Linked DNA regions of Homo sapiens. The protein of the gene in region 1 purifies or fractionates together with the protein of each later gene. This does not show direct contact. Each region holds a gene or a part of one and is shown in the gene's direction. Other genes may lie near its edges. The genes, in order: LPXN, PSTPIP2, EDC3 and ARHGEF6.

What was found.
Region 2: the proteins of LPXN (region 1) and PSTPIP2 purify together in Homo sapiens (co-immunoprecipitation; 3 studies listed by BioGRID and IntAct, with this or other methods). This does not show direct contact.
Region 3: the proteins of LPXN (region 1) and EDC3 purify together in Homo sapiens (co-immunoprecipitation; 3 studies listed by BioGRID and IntAct, with this or other methods). This does not show direct contact.
Region 4: the proteins of LPXN (region 1) and ARHGEF6 purify together in Homo sapiens (co-immunoprecipitation; 3 studies listed by BioGRID and IntAct, with this or other methods). This does not show direct contact.

What each region holds. Positions count from the first base shown.
Region 1 is NC_000011.10:58,526,347-58,530,865, reverse strand, and holds the end of LPXN (leupaxin), read left to right. Parts: intron 1-341; coding exon of another isoform or gene 342-436; exon of another isoform or gene 437-2,293; intron 2,294-2,674; coding exon 2,675-2,823; intron 2,824-3,142; coding exon 3,143-3,412; 3' UTR 3,413-3,995; downstream 3,996-4,519. UniProt on the Homo sapiens protein: Transcriptional coactivator for androgen receptor (AR) and serum response factor (SRF). Contributes to the regulation of cell adhesion, spreading and cell migration and acts as a negative regulator in integrin-mediated cell adhesion events.
Region 2 is NC_000018.10:46,069,255-46,076,105, reverse strand, and holds the start of PSTPIP2 (proline-serine-threonine phosphatase-interacting protein 2), read left to right. Parts: upstream 1-3,845; 5' UTR 3,846-3,917; coding exon 3,918-3,950; intron 3,951-6,851. UniProt on the Homo sapiens protein: Binds to F-actin. May be involved in regulation of the actin cytoskeleton.
Region 3 is NC_000015.10:74,693,014-74,700,863, reverse strand, and holds the start of EDC3 (enhancer of mRNA-decapping protein 3), read left to right. Parts: upstream 1-4,839; 5' UTR 4,840-4,984; intron 4,985-5,048; exon of another isoform or gene 5,049-5,498; intron 5,499-7,845; exon of another isoform or gene 7,846-7,850. UniProt on the Homo sapiens protein: Binds single-stranded RNA. Involved in the process of mRNA degradation and in the positive regulation of mRNA decapping. May play a role in spermiogenesis and oogenesis.
Region 4 is NC_000023.11:136,742,914-136,749,946, reverse strand, and holds part of ARHGEF6 (rho guanine nucleotide exchange factor 6), read left to right. Parts: intron 1-2,354; coding exon 2,355-2,439; intron 2,440-4,599; coding exon 4,600-4,724; intron 4,725-6,160; coding exon 6,161-6,362; intron 6,363-7,033. UniProt on the Homo sapiens protein: Acts as a RAC1 guanine nucleotide exchange factor (GEF).

The sequences.
Region 1 (4,519 bases):
GCTGCCTGTTCCTTCCTTTGGAAGCTTCATCCCAGCAGGGCACCCACCAGATGCCAGCCAGAGCTCTCCTGTATGAGGTGTCAGTTAGCCCCTATTGGGAGGTGTCTCCCAATCAGGAGACACGGGGGCCACAGACCCACTCAAGGAGGCAGTCTGACCCTTAGCAGAGCTCGAACCCTGTGCTGGGAGATCCACTGCTCTCTTCAGAGCTGTCAGGCAGGGATGTTTAAGTCTACTGAAGCTGTGCCCACAGCCACCCCTTCCCCTGGGTGCTCTGTCCCAGGGAGATGGGGGTTTTATCTATAAGCCCCTGACTGGAGCTGCTGCCTTTTTCTTTTCAGAGATGGCCTGCCCAGAAAAGAGGAATCTAGAGAGGCAGTCTAGCCACAGCAGCCTTGCTGAGCTGCGGTTGGCTCCACCCAGTTTGATCTTCTGAGTGGCTTTGTTTACACTGTGAAGGTAAAACCACCTGCTCAAGCCTCAGCAATGGTGGATGCTTCTCCCTCCACCAAATTCTAGTATCCCAGGTCGAGCTCAGACTGCTGTGCTGGCAGTAAGAATTTCAAGCCAGTGGATCTTAGCTTGCTGGGCTCCATGGGGGTGGGACCTACCGAGCCAGGCCACTTGGCTCCCTGGCTTAAGCCCCCTTTCCAGGGGAGTGAACAGTTCTGTCTCGCTGGCATTCCAGGTGCATCTAGGTTATGAAAAACAAAAAACAAAAAAACTTCTAAAGCTAGCTCAGTGTTTGCCCATACAGCCGCCCAGTTTTGTGCTTGAAACCCAGGGCCCTGGTGGCGTAGGCACAAGAGGGAATCTCCAGGTCTGCGGTTTGTGAAGACTATGGGAAAAGCACAGTATCTGGGCCGGAGTGCACTGTTCCTCACGGCACAGTTTCTAATGGCTTCTCTTTGTTAGGAGAGGGAGTTCCCTGACCCCTTGTGCTTTCTGGGTGAGGCAACACCCCACCCTTTTTCGGCTTGCCCTCAATGGGCTGCACCCACTGTCCGATCAGTCTCAATGAGATGAACCGGTTACCTCAGTTGGAAATGCAGAAATCACCTGCCTTCTGCATCGATCTCACTGGAAGCTGCAGACCTGAGCTGTTCCTATTCGGTCATCCTGCCAGCAATCTCCAAATTATTTATTTTATTGCTCATGTCATCAGTTTGATATACAGTTAATTTTCTTCAATTTGATTCAATTTTTTAGGGATTCATGTTTTTCCATTTTAATTTTTTTACTTTTTTTTTTTTTTTTTGAGACAGAGTCTCACTATCTCCCAGGCTGGAGTGCAGTGGTGCGATCTCGGCTCACTGCAAGCTCTGCCTCCCGGGTTTACGCCATTCTCCTGCCTCAGCCTCCCAAGTAGCTGGGACTACAGGCGCTCGCCACCACACCTGGCTAATTTTTTGTATTTTTAGTAGAGACGGGGTTTCACCGTGTTAGCCAGGATGGTCTCGATCTCCTGACCTCGTGATCCACCCGCCTCGGCCTCCCAAAGTGCTGGGATTACAGGTGCAAGCCACCGTGCCCGGCCAATTTTTTCACTTTTTAATTATGTACAACAATAGTTGAAACCATACATATACTCAGGAGTGGAATATAATTAGCAAATATTTTCTTCAGATTGTTATTTGTCTTTGTTTATGGTGATTTTTTGACATGTGTAAGTCATTCAGATATATTTTTATGTAGCTAAATTTATTAATATTTAACTTGCTTTTGGAATTTGGGCTTTATTTATGACAGTTTTTCTGTTTCCAGATTAAAGAGGAATACATCATTAATGACAAGATATGAAATGCAAATGCACACATTAAAAAAACCCTAAGTATCATTAGCCTTTCGGGAAATACAAATCAAAACTACCATGAGATAACATTGTATAGATAGATAACATCCATTTGATTGATTAAAAAGGAAATATATGGATATATCAAGTGATGTAAAGACTGAGGAATAATTGGGATTTTCATACACTGCTGGTAAACAATAAAAATAATATACCCACACAAAAAATAAAAAAAGGAGGAATACATCTATTTTTAATTCAAATATATGGTATGAGTCATTGTGTTTAGATCTTGCATCCATCTGGAAATTATTATTTAGTAGTATTTTATTTTAAAATATCAGATGCTTTTTTTCTTCCCAGATGCTGTTTTAGATATTAGAGATATAATGGTGACAAGATCAACAATATCTAGTTTCTCTCAGAGCTAATGTTCCTGTAAGGGGAGACAGCCCACAAAGATGATTTTAAATAAAGGTAAATGCCATAAAGACGGTGAAAGAAGATGATGTGACAAGGAGGGACTGAAGAGATGCCTCTCTGATAAGATGATATTTGAGTGATTCTTGCATCACATGAAGAGGACAACTATATCAGGCTCTGGGACAGAACTATCCAAGCCAAGGGAATACTTAGTACAAAGGCACTGAGGAGCAATAGCCCCTAACACTTATTAAATGTTTACTATGAACCAGACACAATGCCAAAACACTTCCTCTGCATTATCTCATTTATTTCTTACAACTACCCTTTGAATTAGGTAACAGTAATCATCCTATTTTGAATATGAGGACACTGAGATTGAAAGGGCCTCCTCTCAGTCTCCAGTGTAGCTTTCAGGGCTCAACCTGCAACAGTGAATTCCTGATTTTATCTCTCCAGGCTTTCATGAGAAGGACAAGAAGCCATATTGCCGAAAGGATTTCTTAGCCATGTTCTCACCCAAGTGTGGTGGCTGCAATCGCCCAGTGTTGGAAAACTACCTTTCAGCCATGGACACTGTCTGGCACCCAGAGTGCTTTGTTTGTGGGGTCTGTATAATCACTTTTCTTTCGGACTTAGGGAAAGTCAAGGGTTCTCCTCTCTGAGAGGAAGAGCTGCAGTTAGTGAAAGGGTTCACAGTCCTGAATGAGGAATGGATGTGCGCATCCTAAAGGAGAAACGAGATACAGATCCATTTGCTTGTCTGTTTTGCAAGCGGGAAATCTAGTCTCCATTTGTCAAGAACCTGAGGGAAATTCCTGTAGCTGGCAGGTAACTGTCAGGAATTTCAAGGCTGAAAATTTTACTTTGCTGACATTTTACCTCTTGACATTTGCATTCTTTTTCTCTCTCTTCTCTCTACCCCAGGACTGCTTCACCAGTTTTTCTACTGGCTCCTTCTTTGAACTGGATGGACGTCCATTCTGTGAGCTCCATTACCATCACCGCCGGGGAACGCTCTGCCATGGGTGTGGGCAGCCCATCACTGGCCGTTGTATCAGTGCCATGGGGTACAAGTTCCATCCTGAGCACTTTGTGTGTGCTTTCTGCCTGACACAGTTGTCGAAGGGCATTTTCAGGGAGCAGAATGACAAGACCTATTGTCAACCTTGCTTCAATAAGCTCTTCCCACTGTAATGCCAACTGATCCATAGCCTCTTCAGATTCCTTATAAAATTTAAACCAAGAGAGGAGAGGAAAGGGTAAATTTTCTGTTACTGACCTTCTGCTTAATAGTCTTATAGAAAAAGGAAAGGTGATGAGCAAATAAAGGAACTTCTAGACTTTACATGACTAGGCTGATAATCTTATTTTTTAGGCTTCTATACAGTTAATTCTATAAATTCTCTTTCTCCCTCTCTTCTCCAATCAAGCACTTGGAGTTAGATCTAGGTCCTTCTATCTCGTCCCTCTACAGATGTATTTTCCACTTGCATAATTCATGCCAACACTGGTTTTCTTAGGTTTCTCCATTTTCACCTCTAGTGATGGCCCTACTCATATCTTCTCTAATTTGGTCCTGATACTTGTTTCTTTTCACGTTTTCCCATTTCCCTGTGGCTCACTGTCTTACAATCACTGCTGTGGAATCATGATACCACTTTTAGCTCTTTGCATCTTCCTTCAGTGTATTTTTGTTTTTCAAGAGGAAGTAGATTTTAACTGGACAACTTTGAGTACTGACATCATTGATAAATAAACTGGCTTGTGGTTTCAATAACTCATTGTCATATTTGTTTGGGAGATAAACTTTCTGCTTCCCGTGTTATATACTAGGCACTATGTACAATTAAGATTATATCATACCTCGTTTCCTTCCATCCAATGCACACTTTAAAATTTTTAATCAGAAGAAATTAAAAGGAGGGTCTCCTTTTCACTAATTTTTCTTTTTTTTCTTTTTAGTTTGGTCCCATAACCATTTTATTTTCTAGACTTAGATGATTGAATCATTTTTAAAAATGACAAAGCTTCTTAAAATTGTTTTTATTACTTTGTTTACAGGAGGAGAAACCCTGGCTCTCCATTAGAAACCTTACAAATTCATTTCTTTTTCCTTTTTTTTTTTTTCTGAGATGGAGTTTCGCTCTTGTTGCCCAGGTTGGAGTGGAATGGCGCGATCTCGGCTGACCGCAACCTCCACCTCCTGGGTTCAAGCAATTCTCCTGCCTCAGCCTCCTGAGTAGCTGGAATTACAGGCATGCGCCACCACACCAGGCTAATTTTTCTATTTTTAGTAGAGAT
Region 2 (6,851 bases), on another chromosome or scaffold:
CATTGAAAGTGTGTGTGTGGGCCGGGCCCGGTGGCTCATGCCTGTAATCCCAGCACTTTGGGAGGCCCAGGTGGGCGGATCACGAGGTCAGGAGATAGAGACCATCTTGGCTAACACAGTGAAACCCCGTCTCTACTAAAAATACAAAAAATTAGCTGGGCGTGGTGGCAGGCGCCTGTAGTCCCAGCTACTCGGGAGGCTGAGGCAGGAGAATGGCGTGAACCCGGGAGGCGGAGCTTGCAGTGAGCCGAGATGGCACCACTGCACTCCAGCCTGGGCAACAGAGCAAGACTCTGTCTCAAAAAAAAAAAAAAAGAAAGTGTGTGTGTGTTCTTTTTTCTTCTCATTCTAGTGACAGCTTGTTTTGCCTTGTTTTTCACTTATTAATATATCTGATGATTGTTCCATATCAATACGCAAAGAGCTTCCTCATTTTTTATGCTTGAATATGATTTCATTGGATCGATATATGACAATATATTGAGCTAGTACTCCATGGATGGACATTAATTATTTCAAGTCTTTTGCCAAAATAACCACACTGCTATGAACAACTGTGTCATCTTTTACTTTGCATATGTGAGAATATATTTGTAAGGTAAGTTTTTTGACATGGACTTAATGGGTCAAAAGATAGGGGCATTTTACATTTTGATCACATGGCCAAATTTCTCTTCACAGATATTTTTATTTTATTTTATTTTGAGATGGAGTCTCACTCTGTCGCCCAGGCTAGAGTGCAGTGGTGCAAACTCAGCTCACTGTAACCTCCACCTCCCAGGCTCAAGCGATTCTCCTGGCTCAGCCTCCCGAGTAGGTGGGATTACAGGTGCTGCGCCACCTCCGCACGGCTAATTTTTGTATTTTTAGTAGAGACGGGGTTTCACCATGTTGACCAGGCTGGTCTCGAACTCCTGACCTCAAGTGATCTGCCTGCCTCAGCCTCCCAAAGTGCTGGGATTACAGATGTGAGCCACCCTGCCCAGCCCTTCACAGAGATTTTCAATTTTTATGTGCAAAATTGTCTGCTTATAAAGTGGCTAGCCCTGTATTCTATCAAACTTTTTGTTAGAAAAAATACATTGAGTGATTTTAGAAAATACTTATGAAATACTAAGTTAAAAAAGCAAGACTCAAAATTTTATGTACAGTAAGAACTTACTCTTGCAAATATATAGTTGAAAGAGAGTATGCCAAAATATTCACAGCGATTATCTTAAATGTATTATGTCTTAAATATATTAAATAATTTCATTATTTCATAATTGCTATAATATTGTTTAATTTTGTTAGTGTCTTAGTATGTTTTCTGTTGCTTATAACAGAGTATCTGACATCGGGTAGTTTATAAAGGAAAAGAATTTATTTCTCACAGTTATGAAGGCTGAAAAGTCCAAGGTTGAGGGGCCGCATTTGTGCCAGCCTTCTTGCTGGTAGGGACTCTGTGGCATGGGGTGTAACATGGCAAGGAGGTTGATCATGCTAGTTCAGGCCTCTCTTCCTCTTCTTCTTCTTTTTTTTTTTTTTTCTGAGATGGTGTCTCACTCTGTCTCGCCCAGGCTGGAGTGCAGTAGCACTCTCGGCTCACTGCAGCCTATGCCTCCTGGGTTCAAGCGATTCTCCTGTCTCACCCTCCCAAGTAGCTGGGACTACAGGCGTGTGCCGCCACACCCGGCTAATTTTGTATTTTTAATAGAGATGGGGTTACATCATGTTGGCCTGCCTGGTCTTGAACTCTTGACCTCAGGTGATCCACCTGCCTTGTCCTCCCAAAGTGCTGGGATTACAGGCATGAGCCACTGTGCCCAGCCATCTCTTCCTCTTCTTATAAAGCATAAAGCCACCAGTTTCATCTCCTGATAACCCATTAATCTACTAACCCATTAATCCATGAATGGGACTAGTGGCCCTCGTGACCCAATCACCTCTTAAAGATCCTACCTCTCTCAATACTGTCTCATTTCAGATTAAGTTTCAACAAGAATTCTTGGAGGGGGCAACATTCAAACCACAGAAGTTAGTAAAATATCCTAAATATGTCCCTTGGATATAGCACACACTTTGTTTGTTTTTTTACTCACAATACCTGCCCCAGAGATGAGCTGTTTGAGGAATGAAGAATATTTTCCAGCAGCGTGGATGACCATTTGCAATTAAAAACTTTGTCACCAGATGGCGGAAGAGGGTTAAAATTCAGGGAGCTTAGAGTCTGAGTCGCGAAAATCAAGCACAATGTACTGTGAGAGCTTGTGAAACGTTCTAATAACTTAAAATTATACATGTATTAAAAATTAAAATGTGACAATTAGAATTGTATCTAAACTATTTTTCCAGAATATTTAAAACTTCCAGGAAAAACCTTAGTGGTGTCTTCAGCTCTCCCGCTTCTATGTCCCCAGTTTGTGCCATTTCTTACCCCCTGCAGTTAAGCCTAGCTTCCTAGTGCCTACCACGTCCTCTGCTGCCCCTTGATGGTTCTGCCAGGCTTCTCTGCCTTCCTTCTAATCTCACTGCTTTCAAAGGATATGAGCAAGTACGTAAATGGATGCATCCCTTGGAGATGCTTGGTGGCTGGAGGCCACCTCTCCATCTTTGCAGTTGTGGATGACTTTATTGGTGGGAGTTCATCTGAGTGGGGCTGGCTGCAGTTTTATGGAGCAGAACTTGTTCCAGGTGCTTCACATAATTCTAGCAATTGCCCTTTCACTGTGTCTGGGTGTAGCTAGAACCTGCTCCAGGGGTGAGTGCTTGCTTCTCCAGGCTGGGCTGGTGCCAGTCTTGGCAACCTTGACCTTTATCCTCCCCACTTTGAGCACCTATTCCTCTGCCCAGGATGGATCTGCCCCAGGAAGGATGTCTGTCTTTGCATCTATTTAGAAGGGCAGAGCTCTAACCTTGAGCTCTTCATCCCTTAAATAAACTGTGATCTTGGGCAAGCCATTCAACCCCTCTGGGCCTCAGGTTGGGCTTCGGGCCTGTCGCACCAGGCAGTACTTTGTCATAAGCCCTGCATTACTATTAAAAGTCATGGCAAAAACCGCAATTACTTTTGTACCAATCTACTACAATGCAGAGAGGGGTCTGACCTGCCCTGGGGTTTTATTTGTGAGGGTGGAAGAGTGGAGGGAGAAGAAGGAATCTTGGGCCCCTCTTGCTGGGGTGGAATGGGCAGGGAAGGGTCTTGCCTTTTGAGAATGGAAAGGGAGTCAGAGAGCGGCTGAGCTCCTGGAAGCCCTGTTAGGACACCACCAAGTGACTAGAGTCAAGGGGAAACAGCAGAGATGACCTCTCCATGACATTTTAGACTAAAACGTGACCCCATTCATTAAAAACACCTGCAACAACAAAAAGTAAAATAAAAAATGAACCGTCCCCCAGGGCCTGATCTGCAGCAGGTGCCGGTGGGGCCCGCCGTGAAGCCAAGGCGTCTGCGGGAGTTGTCGGCCCCAGGCCTTCTGTAGCTTAAACCGGGTCCTCGCGACCATCTGATCAGATCCCGTCTATCACCCCGCAGAGCCTGGATTTCGTGCTGTCCAGGGGGCCTTGTGGGCAGGAACCCAAGCCAGGACCAGTTATTTCCAATACCCAAAGACTTCCAGAAGGAGGCAGCTAGCTTCGGGCTGATATATTGATCGTGGCCCGACGCTGTGGGGCTTTAAATGGGCCTGGGTCCGGGTGCGGGCTGCAGCCCCTGGCCGGGTGAGCGCCGAGGGTCCCGCCCAGGTCTCGCGCAGGGAGCGCAGAGCGCCGACGGCGGCCGTCGCAATCGGGAGTGGTTTAGGACCCGGGGGCGGCTTCCCTGCGCGAGTGTGGAACGCAGAAGTTGAGTCTGCGGAGCCGCGGGCAGTGGCAGTCAGGCCTCCCCGCTCTGTGCTACCTGCGGCCCGGCTCTCCTCCGCGCCCCCACTCGCGCTGCGATGACGCGCTCACTGTTCAAGGGAAACTTTTGGGTAAGTCGTGGGGCCGACAGCGGATCGCGGGGCTCAGGACCCGGCCCGGGCGGGAGGCCAACGCGGCGGGCGTGGGGGGCTCCCCAGCTCCGGCGCCACTCGGTGACCGCGCGCCCGGGGGCTTGGCGGAGCTCGCGCGTGAAGGGATCGGGGCCCCAGCCCCACTGCTCGAGGGGCAGACTTGGAGCGGACGCCGGGCTGCTGTTCCCTCTCTGTCCCCCGCTACCCACCGCGTGCCCGCGAGTCCCGGGGGCTCGGACTCCAGGGCCCACCCTCTGCCGCCCGCGCCCCCAGCAGCGCGTGCTCCTGAGGACGCAGAGAGCCGAGACACCTTAGAGTCAGGACATCAACCCCTCCTCTCACAGGCGAAGCAGAGACCCTTAGGGAGGCGAGACCCGTCCGGGGAGAGTCTCTGCCGGTCCCTGGAGCTGAGCCGTGAGAGGATCTGGGGGGATCTGGTGTGGGGGCTTGTGAGCTTTACCGGGTTGACAGCAGCAGCTGCCCCCCGGGATCGTCCTTTCCAGGAAACGTACAGCATAGAGGGCTTCCCTTTGCTGGAGCTTTCCCTGTTCTACAGCCTTGTTTCCCGAGCCCCCTCCCCAGGCCATTGCCCCAGCCCTTCCGTCCAGGCCCCATAGCGGGGCTGATGGTGTGGGAGACCCTATAAGCTGGAGGGGGTACCCCACCCAGCCCGGTAGGGCCAGCCCAGCCTGGAGGGAGCAGGTCTGCCTGTCCCCCTCCTCTGTCTAGTCCTCTTCCCTCTGTCCTCTCACTCCCCAGGTGCCCCTCAAGGTCCATGCCCCCTCATTCAGAGGAGCTGTCCTCATCCCTTTAAGACAGGAGCAGGAGGCTGCAAACCTCAAAGTTGACCGCAGCTGCCAAGGGGCCCTGACTCCTTACTGGGGCTCCTGCTTGCCTCCCCCCACCACCCACCCAGGTAGCTTCACAGCTGCCTAGATGGTCCCTCTACCCCACGTGGGCTGCAGGGTAGAGAAACCTGGCTGGGGACCTCAGGGACACAGTTGAGACTGTGCCTGTGAGTCCCTTCACTGGAGTTTGTGAGGTCCTTCTGGGGCACTACTCACCCTAGGGTGCAGGGTGGTGGCAGCCTCACAGAGGAACCAAGGGCACCACAGATGGCTCTCACGGGAGGCTTGCGAGTTTTTCAGGTAGAATGGAGGACTGGGGGATCCCATGGCAGGCACTGTGGGAAAAAGGCTCTGTATAATACAAACTGGAGAATGAGATGTGGGCCCCAGAAATAAGGAAGTCAGCAGAGGAACTGGTTCGTGGAGACATAAGGAGAAGGAGGCAGACGTGATACTAACAGTATTTAGTTCAGGCACAGTGGCTCATGCCTGTGATCCCAGCACGTTGGGAGGCCGAGGTAGGAGGATTGCTTGAGGCCAGGAGTTCGAGACCACCCTGGGCAACATAGTGAGACTCTGTCTGTCTCTACAAAAAAATCTTAAAAATTAGCTGGGCATGGTGGTGCATGCCTGTAGATATAGTTACTTGGGAGGCTGAGGCAAGAGGATTGCTTGAGGCCAGGAGTTTGAGGTTGCAGTGAGCTATGATCACATCACTGCACTCCAGCCTGGACGACAGAGTGATTTGTGTTTGTCTCAAAAACGAACAAACAAACAAACCCAACCAAACAACACAATCCTCAGTATTTAGCCACAGTTTTAGCACTGGCAAGGCTAAGGCCAGGCGGGCGCTAAGCCCCTCCCCACCAGCCTCCACCCCTCAGCCCCATGCCAGGGATGCTGGATACGGGGAGGTCTTAGCGGAGAGGGTGACAGGGTGAAGACAGGGTTCCAGGCCACAGAGTTTGCAGTATTTTAATATCTTCACAGCCAGTACAAACATGTCAGTGAGTACTCTCTAATGTCTGGTGGGTGACATGCAGGGTTTGAGGGGCTGGTGGAGATGGCCCCGCCCCTTGGGAAGATGTCCAGTTTTGAGAGCTTACCGAACAGCATGAAGCCTCTGAGGTGGGCTGCCCGGGCTTGAATCCAGTTCTGCCCCTTACTAGCTAGGTGACCCTGGGCAGCCTGCTTCCGCCCCCAAGCCTCAGTTTTTCCATACATAAAAATGGGGATAATAACAGTGTCTACTCCTTAGGACCGTTGGGAGGATTAAACTTGAGAGTTTAGTACAGTGCCTGACACACAGAGAGCACCTATAGTTGCCAGCTATTATTATCAGCAGTAGAGGTGACAAGTAAAAGAAGTGAGTGATGGTTATTCAAGGAGAAAGAATGAAGAGATCGGAAGTCCACAAAGAAGCACTCTTAGTGCATGCCTCTATTGATGGAGGAGGAGAAAGGGGACAGAGAAATAGAGGAAGAGATGAAGGGATACAACCAGGAAAGAGCTATCACAGGCCCAAGAGAGGGACATTCCAAGGAAGGTGAGAGGACTGTGGTCAAACGTGTTTGTACATGTTCCTGAAAAAGTATGAGTCAATACACACTTCATAAATGAATGTATTTAAATGCTTCATGAAAATATTTATTTAAAGAAATCTTCGATGAATCTGCTTCAAAAGGGAATAATCAGTGTTTAAAACTGGGCTTGGAGCTGGCGTGTGCCTGTAGTCCCAGCTACTAAGGAGGCTGGGCAACATAGTGAGACCCTGTCTCTAAAAATCATTTTAAAATAAATGAATAAAACTGGGATTGGCCCCCAATGAATTTGCCTGCTATTGGTACATACCTGTGTGTTGTTTCTCTCCCACCCTTCCCTGTTTATACCTTCTTTGTGGCACTTTGGTTAAGCAGTGCTGTATAATTTCTCTTGGTTAACTTTGATTGTATCTTGTCAGAATAAGACAGTGACCACAGTTTCCAAAGATCCAGGGAAACAGCCAGGCCACAATGAGAAAAAATTCCAGTTT
Region 3 (7,850 bases), on another chromosome or scaffold:
AGCGGGTGGATCACCTGAGGTCAGGAGTTTGAGATCAGCCTGGCCAACATGGCAAAACCCCATCTCTACTAAAAATACAAAAATTAGCCAGGTGTGGTGGCACATGCCTGTAGTCCCGGCTGCTTGGGAGGCTGAGGCAGGAGAATCGCTTGAACCTGGGAGGCAGAGGTTGCAGTGAGCTGAGATGGCACCACTGCACTCCAGCCTGGGGAACAAGAGCAAGACTCCATCTCAAACACACATAAACACACACACACACACACACACACACACACACACACACACACCCCAAAGGCAGAAAATGTGTAGAAGACAAATACAGATAAAAAATAAGGGTAACAAACAGAAAATAGTAACAAGGCCAGGTGCCATGGCTCACACCGCAATTTCAATACTTTTGGAGGCTGAGGCAGGAGGATCACTTAACACCAAGAATTGAAAAGCAGCCTGGGCAACATAGTGAGACTCTGTCTCTACAAAACAAACAAACAAATAAAAAAGCTTAGCAGGCTGGGCGCAGTGGCTCACGCCTGTAATCCCAGCACTTTGGGAGGCTGAGGTGGGCAGATCACGAGGTCAGGCGATCGAGACCATCCTGGCTAACACGGTGAAACCCCATCTCTACTAAAAATACAAAAAATTAGCCAGGCATGGTGGCGGGCACCTGTAGTTCCAGCTACTCGGGAGGCTGAGGCAGTAGAATGGCATGAACCCGGGAGGCGGAGCTTGCATTGAGACGGGGTTTCACTTCGTAGAGATGGCACCACTGCACTCCAGCCTGGGTGACAGAGCGAGACTCCATCTCAAAAAAAAAAAAAAAAAGCTTAGCCAGGTGTGATGGTGGGCACCTATAGTACCACCACTTGGGAAGTGGGAGGATTGCTTGAGCCCAGGATTTAAGGCTGCAGTGAGCCACAATCATACCACTGTACCCTAGCCTGGGTGACAGGGTGAAACTCCAACTCACACACACACAAAAAAAGGGCCTGGTGTGGTGGCTCACACCTATAATCCTAGCACTTTGGGAGGCCAAGACTGGTGGATCACTTGATGTCAGGAGTTCAAGACCACCCTGGCCAATATGGTGAAACCCTATTTCTACTAAAAATACAAAAATTAGCCAGTTGTGGTGGCATGTGCATGTAATCTCAGCTACTCGGGAGGCTGAGGCAGGAGAATCGCTTGAACTCAGGAGATGGAGGTTGTGGTGAGCTGAGATCATGCCACTGCACTCTAGCCTGGGTAACAGAGCGAGACGGTGTCTCAAAAAACAAACAACAACAACAAAAAATGAAAAAAAAAACAGTAACAAATATAGTAGACATTAATTCAACTATATCATTAATTAAGCATCAGTCATCTAAATACACCAATTAAAAGACAGAGGTTCTCAGTATGGATGAAAAACAAGACCCAACAATATGTTGTCTACAAGAAACACATTTTAAATATAAAGACATACATAGATTAAAAGTAAAGTGGTGGAGAAGGATATATCATTGATAACACTAATCAAAAGAAAGCAGGAGTAGGTATACTAACTTCAGAAAGAGCAGATTTAGAGAAACAAAAGGTAGGCTGGGTGGCTCACGCTTGTAATCCCAGCACTTTGGGGGGCTGAGGCGGGCAGGTCACCTGAGGTCGGGAGTTCAAGACCAGCCTGACCAACATGGAGAAGCCCCATCTCTACTAAAAATACAAAATTAGCTGGGCGTGGTGGTGCATACCTGTAATCCCAGGTACTCGGGAGGCTGAGGCAGGAGAATCACTTGAACCCAGGAGGCAGAGGTTGCGGTGAGCTGAGATCGTGCCACTGCACTCCAGCCTGGGCAACAAGAGTGAAACTTTGTCTCAAAAAAAAAAAAAGTCATCAGGTTATAAATCTATACAGCAAAACATATACAAGAGCTATATGAGTAAAACTACAAAACTCTGATCAAAGATATAAAAGAATTACATAAATTGAGAAATATTTCATGTTCACAGATAGAAAGAAAATATAGTCAAAATGTCTGTTCTTCCAAACCTGATCTATAGATTCGATGCAATCCCAATCCAAGTATCAGCATATTATTTTTGTGGATGTCGACAAACTGATTGTAAAATTGATATGGAGATACAAAAGACCTAGAAGAGCCAGCTCACTATTAAAGGAGAACAAAGTTGGAGGACTGATACTACCCAACTTCAAGACTTACTATAAACTACAGTAATAATGACAATGTGGTATTGGTGAAAGAATAAACAATCCAGAAGTAGACCCACATAAACGTAGTCAACTGATCTTTGACAGAGGAGTTAAAGCAATATAATGGAGCAAAGATAGGTTTTTCAACAAATTATGTTGGAACAACTGAATTTTCACACACATAAAAATGTATCAGGCCGGGTACGGTGGCTCACGCCTGTAATCTCAGCACTTTGAGAGGCCGAGGTGGGCAGATCAATTGAGATCAGGAGTTCGAGACCAGCCTGGCCAACATGGTGAAACCTTGCCTCTACTAAAAATACAAAAACTAGCCAGGTGTGGTGGCGGGTGCCTGTAATCCCAGCTACTTGGGAGGCTGAGACAGGAGAATCACTTGAACCCAGGAGGCAGACATTGCAGTGAGCTGAGATCGTGCCACTGCACTCCAGCCTGGGCAACAGAGTGAGACTCCGTCTCAAAAAAAAAAAAAAAATTATCTAGGCAAAGACCTTGCACCCTTCATAAAAATTAACTCAGAATGGATTGTAGACCTAAATGTAAAATGGAACACTATAAAACTCCTGGAAGACAACACAGGAGAAAACCTAACTGATCTTGGGAATGGCAATGACTTTAGGGCAATACCAATAGCATAATCTGTGAAAAATATAATTGATAAGCTGGACTTCATTAAAATTTAAAACTTCTGCTCTTCAAAAGAAGAATGAGAAGACAAGCCACAGACTAGGAGAAAATATTATAAAAGACGTATCTGATAGAGGACTGTTATCTACAATATACCCAGAACTCTTAAATCACAACAAGAAAATAACACAATGTAAAAATGGGCAAAATACCTGAATGAACACTTCATCAAAGAAGATATACACATGGCAAGTAAGTATATGAAAAGATGTTCAATATCATATGTCATTAGGGAATTGCATATTAAAACAATAAGATACTACTACACACTTACTTGAACGGCAAAATACTGACACCACAAAACGCTGACAAGGATGTGGAGCAACAGAAACCCTCATTCACTGCTGTGGGAATGCAAAATGATGCAGCCACTTTGAAAGGCAGTTTGGTAGTTTCTCCCAAAACTAAATATACCATCCAATCCAGCAGTTGCACTCCTTGGTATTTACCCAGATGAATTGAAAACTCATGTCTACACAAAAATCTGCACATGATGTATAGCGGCTTTATTCATAATTACCCAAACTTGGAGGCCACCAAGATGTCTTTCAGTAGGTGAATGGATAAACCGCAGCACATCCAGACGATGGAATATTATTATTCAGCACAAAAAAGAAATGAGCTATCAAGCCATGAAAAGACATGGAAGAACTTTAAGTGCATAAGTGAAAGAATCCGATGTGAAAAGGCTGCATACTGTATGATTCCAACTATATGGGATTCTGGAAAAGGCAAAACTATGGAGACAGTAAAAGGAGCAGTGGTTGCCAGTGGTTAGGGGACTGAGAAGGATAAATAGGCAGAGGACAGAGGATTTTCAGGGCAGTGAAACTATCGTGTATGATACCATAATGGTGGATACATGTCATTACATATATGTCAAAACCCACAGAATGTGCAACACCGAGAGTAAACTCTAATGTAAACTATGGACTCTGGGTGATAATGATGTGTCAAAGTTGGGTAATCAATTGTTACCAAATGTACCACTGTAGCACAAGATGTCCATGAGGGGACAAGTTGTGTATGTGCCTGTGTGTACAGGGGATATATGGGAACTCTGTACTTTCTGTTCAGTTTTGCCCTGAACCAAAAACTGCTCTATAAGTGTTCATTAATAACAGTAATTTTAAAAGACAAGGACCCCTTCTGACCTAGGGAATCTCTGGTGATGGAGGGGGAAGGGTGAAGCAGTCCCCTAGAAAGTGTAGATTTTACAAAGTTCTTCAACTGATTTTGTAGAGCTAGGTTTGGAACTGCTACCCTACTCTATGCTATTCGCCCAAGTAGTGGTTCCCAAACCAGGTGTCAGGCTTCAAGGCTGTGCAATATTCCTCATTACACGGTCTTGGCCCTAAACGCATGCTTTCCCGTCTCCCCACAAATCAAGACTCTAAAATGCCAGGGGTAGAAGAGCGGCACTTTCCTGTGTACTGAGTATGGGGGAAGGGAGAGCAGTCAAGCACGGACTGGCTGATTTTAACCCCCAAAAGGGCTGAAGCTGATACGCTTTGAAGATCGACCACGGCAGGAATATCTTGTTTTCTTTAATCCATCAGGGGGTTGTCGCACTTATTAAGTCCCACAGCTGCAGTTTAGCACGGAGGGGCTGTCACGTCACCAGGCCTCCCTGAAAGTCCTCCGCTCCAGCTCTGCGATTGGCGCTGGGGTAACAGGAGGGGAAGCGGGTGCTTTTCATCGAGCCTGCAAGAGGGGGGCCCAGGCATCGAGGCTGGGGAGTCGTGGGTAGAGCCCCGATTCCAGCCAAGACGCCACAGGACATAAGTAAGCGTGGAGGGCAAAATGACTACCCAAGCGCAATTCTGTAAGGCCGAAGGGACGTTCTTCCAACCTCTTAAATTTCCCGGGTGCCACGCCCCTCAATTGACGGCCCTGGATTCCAAGGTGTCGCGCCGGAAGTGACCTCACGGTGGTGGCGTGGAGACGTGGGGGCGCTTCCGGCAGCGGCGGCGGTGGTGAAGGCCGATGCTGTGGGGGTGGGCGTGGAGAGAATTCTTCTGTGGGTCCTCTGGTGTTGAGTGGTCGGCTTGGTGTGGTGTGCGGAGGAGCTCCAGGCCCGTCGGCGCGGAGGTGGGAGCGAAGGGAGGCTACTGGTTTGTGGACGGTCGTGGGAGGGGGCTGCCGGGGTTGCTTTAGGCTTCAGAGTTCCAGGCCTCGTAGACCTTTATAGAGGCAGGCAGGCAGGCAAGAGCTGGGGGCTTCATCGGATGAGCAGGGGACCACGTACTACGGGCGGCCCCAGGAGTTTGGTTTGAGGTGGAAGGCTGAGGACTGCAGGATTCTAAATAGTATGGGGATTGTGTGGGGAGTGAGGCATTAGCTGCTTGGGCCCTTAGTCCAGCCTTGTTGGTGGCTGCTGCAGTTCTTTGGCTCACTCACTCTGTTCTTCGTGCCTCAGTTTCCCTTTGCATAATGAGATACGGTGGCAGAGAAGAACGCCAGTGCCACATCCATGACTGATAGCTTGAGGACGGAGATGAACTGGAGGGTAGAAAAAGAGGATGCCTGAGAAATTTATACCTACCAGGTCACATCTTCGAATCCCAGGAAGTTATCCCTGGATTCATTTCTGCCTTTGATGCAAGTCTGTGGTTCTTTTCAGTACACTTTGTGTGATATTGATTGTATGTATCAATACTTGACTTGCTGAGTGGTTAAAGTGTTTTGGTTTGTGGGAGGCATAGTCCTTGTTGGCTTGGTCAGTTAATTTTCAGTTAATCTCCCAATAGCAATTGCTTCGCCTAACTCTTCAATTGGGAGATTAGTTGAAAATCAACTGACCAAGCCAACAGTCTTCTCCTGTGGTTACAGGTGAGGAACTCGCGACCCAGAATGGTTTTTCTTCTCTTCCTTCGCCACAGACCAAACCGATTTCAGTCTGCTGTCTCAAATACAGGTCTTCACCCCACCAAAACAGAAATGGCTGTCTCCAAGCAGTTTAGTATTTCAACTGGACACCCAGATGGATCCTAATCTTTTTTTTTTTTTTTAATGAATGGCAGATTACGTGTACTGAGCACAAAATCCTCTTAGCTAGTTTCTCTGTATGATGTAAAAACATGACATTTTGTTTATTACCAATTTCTTGGTAGAGCCTCCTTGGCATAGGGCTGTGGGGCTAGAAAAGTGTCTCAAAATTTTTTACCTGTGACCCACAGTTAGATATATTATACATCATGACTTATTGTGCCCCTGCACACTCAGTGTGTACACACACACACACACCAATGAAAAGTTTACTTACCCTTTCTACAGAAGATGCACTCTAAAAAAATATTGGTTGCAACTCACTAAATTGAGTCTGACCCCTAATAGGTCATGACGTATAGTTTGAAAAATATTAAGGCCGGGCACTGTGGCTCACGCCAGTAATCCCAGCACTTTGGGATGCTGAGGCGGGTGGATCACCTGAGGTCAGGAGTTGGAGACCAGTCTGGGCAACGTGGTGAAACCCCGTATGTACTAAAAATACAAAACTTAGCTGGGTGGTGGTGGGTGCCTATAATCCCAGCTATTTGGGAGGCTGAGGCAGGAGAAACGCTTGAACCTGGGAGGGAGAGGTTGCAGTGAGCCAAGATATGCTACTGCACTCCAGCCTGGGCAACAAGAACTAAACTTCTCAAAAAAAGAAAAGAAAAGAAAAATATTAGACTAGGGCCGAGTGCAGTGGTGGGAGGATTGCTTAAGGCCAGCCTGGGCAACATAGCAAGACTCTGTCTAAGAAAAACAACATTAGAAAATGTTTAAAATCCTTGCCATTTGTGAGATTCTGTAATTAATACAAAATGGAAGATGTATCATTTTTCTTTTCTTATCCAGAGAAGGGCTTACTAGAGTTCTCCTAAATTCAGCCAGAACAACAGGACAGGACATCCAAATTGTGGCTCAAAGGAGTGTAGTGACCATAATGATAGTGTGTCAGAATTTTAGCAAGGCATTTATGAAGTTTTTGTTTTTTTTTTTGAGATGGAGTCTCACTCCATTGCCCAGGTTGGACGGAGTGCAGTGGTGCAATTTCTGCTCACTGTAACCTCTGCCTCCTGGTTCAAGCGATTCTCCTGCCTCAGCCTCCCAAGTACCTGGGACTACAAGCATGCACCACCACGCCTGGCTAATTTTTGTATTTTCAGTAGAGATGGGGTTTCACCATGTTGGCCGGGCTGGTCTCGAACTCCCGACCTCAGGTGATCCACTCACCTCAGCCTCCCAAAGTGCTGGGATTACAGGTGTGAGCCACCGCGCCTGGTCTTACTGAGTCTTACTATAACTGAGTGGGCGAGATGGAGGAATTTGCCAGATTGTGGTAGTTAGATGGAGTCATGAGTTTGAAAATCTATGTATGGAGAGGTTTGATTTGTGGACACTACTTACAGCTGGAATTCCGGTGATCTAAACTGGGGTTTCATCACTTTCTTTATATACTTCATGTATTTGAGACCTTATCTAGAAGGTTTGCTTATTGGATTTGGTGCCTTTGTGAAGTAAAGAAAGAGTCATTTGGTTGGTGATTGCCAGAATGGGAAAAGATCTCAATATAATTTGCTCAGTGCTGTTTAATGAAATGAAGGAAGCATGTATAAATGTGAGAAATTGCGCTTGGGTCCAAACAAAATCAACTATACCTATTAGGGGAGGGTGGAGATGTGACCTCACAGGAGTTCTATAATAAAAAGATGTGATGTTTTAATCACCAATCAGTGGTGTGGTTAAGAAGGCTGTGAGAAGAACCGATGTGACCTGCATTAGTATATTGTATCAGGAAAATGCAAAATCTAGAATGAGAAAGGTTGCATCACTGGTAGGCTTGTACCTGGAATATTAGGTTTAGATCTAGATGTGCTAAGAGTAAATTTATGGGCAGAAGTCAAAAGTTTGAAGATATGGTGGTGTTGCTTTGGCATGAATGATTATTTTTCTCCTTGTCATTTCAGGCTTT
Region 4 (7,033 bases), on another chromosome or scaffold:
GGGTGGAATTTTCAATATCATTCAATTTAGGACTTAGAAGGTATAGTGTGGTGAAGGGTGTTTGTGGTTGTATCTGATTCTCCAGCTACTCTGAAATAATAATGCTTAGGCGTTGCTTTCTCTAGCAGTTCCCAGAGGCTTCTTCCAACTCCTTCCTCTGTAGTTTCTAGTGCCTCAGAATAGGCTTGCAGCAAGAACAGTGTCCATGGATAAACTTGAGTATATTGGGGTTTTCTCAAAAGAGAACCGAGTACAGTTCAGGAAACTTCCCTCAAGCAGATGCAATGACTCTTCTTGATGCACATTTCATTTTCTGATTAGTTTATTTATTTTCAAAATCAGTCAAGTACTTGTACAAGTGAATAATACCAGTGTTGCCATGTATAGGCATTTAATAACCCTGGATAAGGAACAACTAAAACCAGAGGGAGAGGTTTTTTATCACAACTTTTGCTCTCATGCCTTATTCTGCTAATATTTAACTTCTGCTTATTATTTTAGATCTACTCATCTCTACCACACCCACCCAAAACATGTATCCACATGCACACACACATGCACACTCCCATTAGGACTGATGGGCTAAAAACAAGTGATTTTTTTTGCTTTGCTACTATTTTGGCATACATGTCATTAACATTTTCCCAGTTGATCAGTTCTAAGGGAGACTCAATAAGTCTGAAATCCCCGGAGATACTAGACACTCTCTCTAGTCTATTGCCTCTTGTTCACCCAGGCTTTGACAAACTAAAACAAAACTCTTGTCAATGTATTTCTGGAAAAGTTTGAATTTTATATTGTAGCATTCAGAAATATATTTGGAATGTGTTGTTGTTTAACTCTTTAGTAATATTAGCATTACTCTTTTACCAGAAATATATTAATGTCTCATTTTTAGATGCATCTGGGCTTTTTGGTCATTTTAACTTTGAATGCAAAATATTCATTGATTAAATGAATAAAGCAGTGAATCCTAGAATAGGCAGACTTGTGTAGGTTTGCATTTGCATGTATCTTTATTGACCCCCCAAAACGTGAAAAATTGATATTATATATTTTCACTCTAAAAACAGATTATAGGTTTTCAAGAACATGTACAAAAAAGATAGAAATTTGTCTTGATATGGTTCCCAGAAAATATGCAGCTTAAAAATGGAACAAATGGCTCTACCTAATGGGAAGACAGACCCTTTAAAATCCTATGCCCATTACCAATCATGTCCCATATGAAAAGGTACATTTTATTTCCATCACCACATTTGGGGAAAAAATGATGCAATCTGTTTTCTTTAAGAGACTTCTAGACATCCTGGAACAAAATGTTTTTAGAAGGGGCATTTCCATCCAGAAGGTGGGCATCTGGTTACCTTCAGATATGCATACTTACATTGTTGGCTGGCAAATTAATAGATTGTACCTGTGCATGAGAACACTTCTAATTTCAAATATACATATTTGAGACTCAATATATTTTAACACACTGACTACATTTCAAAGGTAACAGGTAAATTGTATTGAAAACAACATCTGATTGGTATCTTCACTGGGGACAATAGCATATCAGATTGACAGTTGACTGGTAAAGTGAAATGTATTTCCTTAATGTGTTTTTTGCCAAGAGTTGAGTAGTATTAGACAGGCCAGAGGTCATATTTGGGAAAGTCATCTAAAGCCAGGAAGAGCCCATAGGCCCAGGCAGGCAAATACTTGAATTCATGATGAGCTGAGAGGGGCAAGGTCAAACAGCAGAAACAGAACTGAAGCTGGGAGCAAAAGGCAGACCTGGGCAGAAAGTTTGGGCAACATGGAATTGGGATCCTAGGCAGTTGGGATGCAGCGGGTGGCAGTTGGGAGGAAGGAGAGCAGAGAAAAAGGCACTTTTGACAGTGACTCAACTAGGCACAGCTAATAAACTGTACAGATGCAACCATGTCAAAAAGGCTCCACCTCCTTATTTATGGACTGTCGAGGACATTATGTAGGTGATGGGCATTGATTGTAACCCATGCATATGAGCTTCCTGTAACTGGGCTGAAACTATTGATACATTCAGGCCAGAAGAGTGGGTCTGAGTATGCACTGTTTATTTCCTGGTGGGCGCTGCCTTCTCAGCTTGGCTCTCATTTCCCATTACTGCTTTGCTCTGACTCACTGATGGCCTGCCACATGTCATTAGGCGGCTCAACTGCTGCTCTCATTTCTCCCAAAGGTATATGGAGGTTTGTGTCTTGGCTTCTACACTTTTTTTTTTTTTTTTTTTTTCCGGAGAGCTGGAGGAAGTGGCCTTTTGATAGTTTTGTTTGTTGAGTTGAATACTTGTAGTGTCTTACGGTTTCAATTTTCCTTTCTCATAGATATTTGATCCTGATGACCTTTATTCAGGGGTCAATTTCTCCAAGGTACTGAGTACTCTTTTAGCTGTCAACAAAGCAACAGAAGGTAAGCCGGGCTTGTGATTTATATGTTCTGGGTGACATTTTTGAATCCATGTGTTTGTGATTACCCTAGGAGCCAACTCTGGCCAGGATTGTTCTCGTGATGCAAATTTTCCCCTTGCTCCCCCAAATACACCCCAACAAATGTCAAATGCTTGAATTTTTCATGGCTTAGGATTTAAAATATACCTATCATAGATGTTATTCTAATGCCCTTAATATAATGATAAGAACTAAGAAACTATTCCATTCAAAGCTCTGAATCACCAACTGAGTATAACAAAACAGAGAAGAAAAAGGAAAGACCAGTTCCCTTTTTCATAGAGTTTACAAAATACAGCCGTCACTTCCCTTTCCCCACTAGAGACATATTTTTCTCATTGTTTTATGTATGCCTTTGTCCATGTAAAGGAACCCCTCAGTAGCCTTGCACCAAAAATGAAATCTTGGGGTCATAGGGAGTGAAAATAATATCTTTTATTTAAATGTTTAACACCTACCACACTAGAGGTATTAAATATAAATGCTAGTAAATGTGAAGAAAATGATGATACACTTAGAATGTAGCTTCACTCCTTCCCTGGTATATTTTACCAACAGCTGAATAGTAATAATCATACTTAAAATGCTTTGAGCTCTTGCCCTGGATCTAGGCTGTCATAAGAGCCACAGGTGATCTCATCCAATCCTTGAAACAACACTGGGGGTAGGTATTATTATTATTAGGTCCATATTACAGATAAGGAAAGTCAGGCCAACAGTTGCCCAACTAGAAAGTTAGTCGCTGAGTTGGGATTCAGACCCACATCTGAATGACTACAGAGCCCTTATGCCCAAGCACGAGGCTTGCTGCTCAAACTGTTGTAGAGTCAAGAGGCTGTGTGCCCAGCATCGCCAGGTGCTACAAAAAATGTCAAAGCTATGGTCCCTGCCTTTGAGAAAATTACTGTCTATTTAAGGAGACTCAACTTACCCACGTGAAACAATTAGAGGACAAGAGCAGACAATATAATCAAGTGCCAAATAGGTTAGAGCATCTAGGAAGCTATCGAGTAATTATAGTTTTTGTCAAAAGAGCTGTATATAATAGCAATACAAGTAAAAATACTTCTCCAAAGTTGTTCTTTTGCTATTTGGAAAAAAAAATGCTTTTGAGCTATTGCAAGGCGTATAGCTGAAAGTACAGCTAATTCAAGTAACTATATTTAACACACATGACAACTATCCAGTTCTAGTCAGGGAGGATCGTGTAATTCTAACATTATGCCACACAAATTATACGTTCCTTTGCCAAACTCTCCTAGCAAGTTTTACAGTCTCTTCCCTTGCCACAGATATTTATAAAATACAAGGAGGTGAAAGTTAAAACCCACAGCATCAAGGAAATTACTTGGATACTGAGCTTGTCGCCTAGGGAATGTTTGGGCTTTAGACTTTTGCAGTTTATATCTTTTAAAAATAAATGGAGAGGAAAAGAACCCTTATTGAAATTTGTCAAGAAGCCAGCTCCTCTCTTTTGTATACTCTCAACAAACTGAAAACATCCAGCTCAGCTCTGGCCTGGTCGAATTTCACAAGGTTTCAAGGAAGAGAAGACTCTTGAATCTGATTGTTAAAAAAATTATTCTAGTATCAAGATTACATCTTTCCCAAACACATCTTCTCTTTCACTCTCATTCTCCACCCTGCCCCACACACATCAGGGAGATTTTACATCATATATGCCACACATATTGTTACGTGTGAGTAAGAAATGAGCCACTGAGTTATGGGCCAAAAAACAAAGAGAGAAATTTGAAATATTTCAAAGTAATAAGAGCCACAAACAGCTGTTTGGTACCCAATATAGTTCTGCCTTGGATAACAGGGCATACTGTTGCAACTGGTTCAGGAGGGAAGAGTTGTAGGGAAATGGTTAAGAGAAAATGTGGTTCTGTCGCTGTTTTTCATTCTACTGGAGCACGATGGCCAGTAAGGTTAAGAACAGGAAGTTGGCCACCAAAAAGGGAAGGGGGATTGAAATACACTTGGCATGTTCATAATGATAACAGTTAGAATTACAGCCAGGATGCCTCTGATAGTATCCTGAGAAAGATAATGTTATGCGGTAGATGTTTTTCTGATCTGAGTGGTTCCTTTAACATGCCTTTTCCTCTTTTCACAGATCAGCTATCAGAAAGACCATGTGGACGTTCCTCTTCTCTTAGTGCTGCTAATACTTCTCAGACAAACCCACAGGGAGCAGTTTCTAGCACAGTTTCAGGGCTGCAAAGGCAGTCAAAGACAGTGGTAAGTATAGTCCCCAATTCTCCGTCTGTTTTAAAATCCATAAAATTAGATTGATATCCTAGTTGCATCTCCATATGTGGTGAGACAGCCATCCGGGTTGTTTTGGGCATCACTGAGAAAACTAATTATAAACCGAGCACCAATTCAGGCTGGCCCGAAGGAGCAAATCAAAGGCATGTGGTGGGGCAAAAATCCGGATTGAAGCTCCAGCTCTGTCCCTTACGAGAATTAGGCAAGTCACTTAACTGAGAATGCTATGCAAATGGAAGTCATTATGGCTACTTTCTGATGGCAGTTTGCTGTTAATTTCCCTATCCCTTGTTTTATTAGAACTAAATAGTGCCTGACACATAGTAGGCAATCAATAAATATTGATTAGTATCCTCATTATTATTGCCATTTTTATTTTTCTCTTTCCATTCCTAATGAGGAAGGCTTGATTTTAAATTTCAGTCTATGATGAGCTTCTATATTAGGATCTCCCAGTTGCCTTTTCACTTGCTCTTATTGGGAGCTTTTATTTGGGAGGAAATGCCTCATCTTCTGCTCTTTGGGTGAAACCTTTATTTCCTGTCAAAAGCCACCCACTTGCAGTAAGACATTATGACCTATTACTTCCAAAGCACTTGAGCATGTGGTTCTTAACTTTTTTGGATCACAGATCCCTTTGAAAGGCTGATGAACACTATGTCTCTACACCCCTGGTACCCTCTCAAATTGTATACAAAAGCCCATGTGTATGAACTTATTTAGACAAAAATATGTTGTGCTCATCAGATTCTCTAAAGGGTCTGTGACCCTCAAAAAGGAAGTCCAGTTTATACATGACAGATTAAGAATTCCTGACTTAATATATCCATGTAATAAAACTGCAGTTGTACCCCCTAAATCTATAAAAATAAAAAAATGGAAAAAAGAATTCCTGACTTAGGCAACTATGGGTTATTTGATCTTTGCATATAAATAAGTCTTAGCCAAATTAAGATATCCTTAGTAATTAGGAGATGGGAGGCAGATTTTATGGAGGGTAGGTTAGTACATCTTGGTTATATAATTATGTGGACTGTTTGTGTGTTGAGTAGAGGCAGGGTGGAATAGCTTATCCAGGGTGGAATAGCTTATCACTCTACTTTGTTATCTGGCTTAGTTAAATAGATAATCTTTAGATAATGGGGAGGGGTGTGGAGAGAAAAATGAAAGCTATGACCCACTTCAAAATACAGATTCTCACAAATGCCAAAGTTTACATACTGTTTTGAGGGATTTATTAATCCCTCTGAGACCCATTCATGGATTCCTAAGTTAAAAACTCAGGACTGAGATGGATCTGGGGTTTTGTCTTTGCTTCCTCCACTTTATTTGCCTATATCCATATCATTTCTACCCCTGCCTTATTTAGATGAGTGCTTAATCTGGTGTGGCTTTTGTTTCTCTAGGAGATGACGGAAAATGGAAGTCATCAGTTGATAGTAAAAGCAAGATTCAACTTTAAGCAGACTAATGAGGATGAACTGTCAGTTTGTAAGGGGGACATCATTTACGTCACACGAGTTGAAGAAGGAGGCTGGTGGGAAGGCACATTAAATGGGAGAACAGGCTGGTTCCCCAGTAATTATGTCCGTGAAATTAAATCCAGTGGTAAGTGAAGTTTTTAAAAGGCTTTTTGATTGTGACTCTTGTACTTTCTTGGTATTCTTACTGAAAATTGTGTAGTTTTAATTGGTTAACAGAAGCTGTTTATACTTGTATGTGTATGCCAAAAATAAGAGTAGAACAGAACTGGGAAAAATCTGTGATTAGATATTTTGAAACAAATTGTATTTAGATTACATTAAGGCAGCAGAAAAATAAAAAAAGCAAAGGAATTCAAAGCTCAGACAACTGGTCCACCCTAACTGTATCCCTTTATGTCTACTAATTCTAGCCCATGTAATATAGTACATAGTCCTTCTCACCACTCTAAAACTTACCATGGCAGAATCCAATAATAAGAGAGGCCATGTGCTAACTTCCTTTTTTTAGCCTTAAGCCCTGTAAGCAGACCTGAGACTAAATGCCTCAGACATGAGAGATAATAATGATAGGGCTGCAGGAAGCTGTCTGGCCGCTTTGATGCTGAACAAGATTGCCCTTAACTCACTGAATACTGCTAGCTGTTTACCTTTTTTTTGTAACAATAGCCAGAGAATGAAATCGAATTGCTCTTCAGTAGTCTTTTCTTCTCTCTCTCTCTTTTTTTAATTATTATTTTTAGACAGGGTCTCACTCTGTTGCCCAGGCAGAGTGCAGTGGCTATCACAACTCACTGC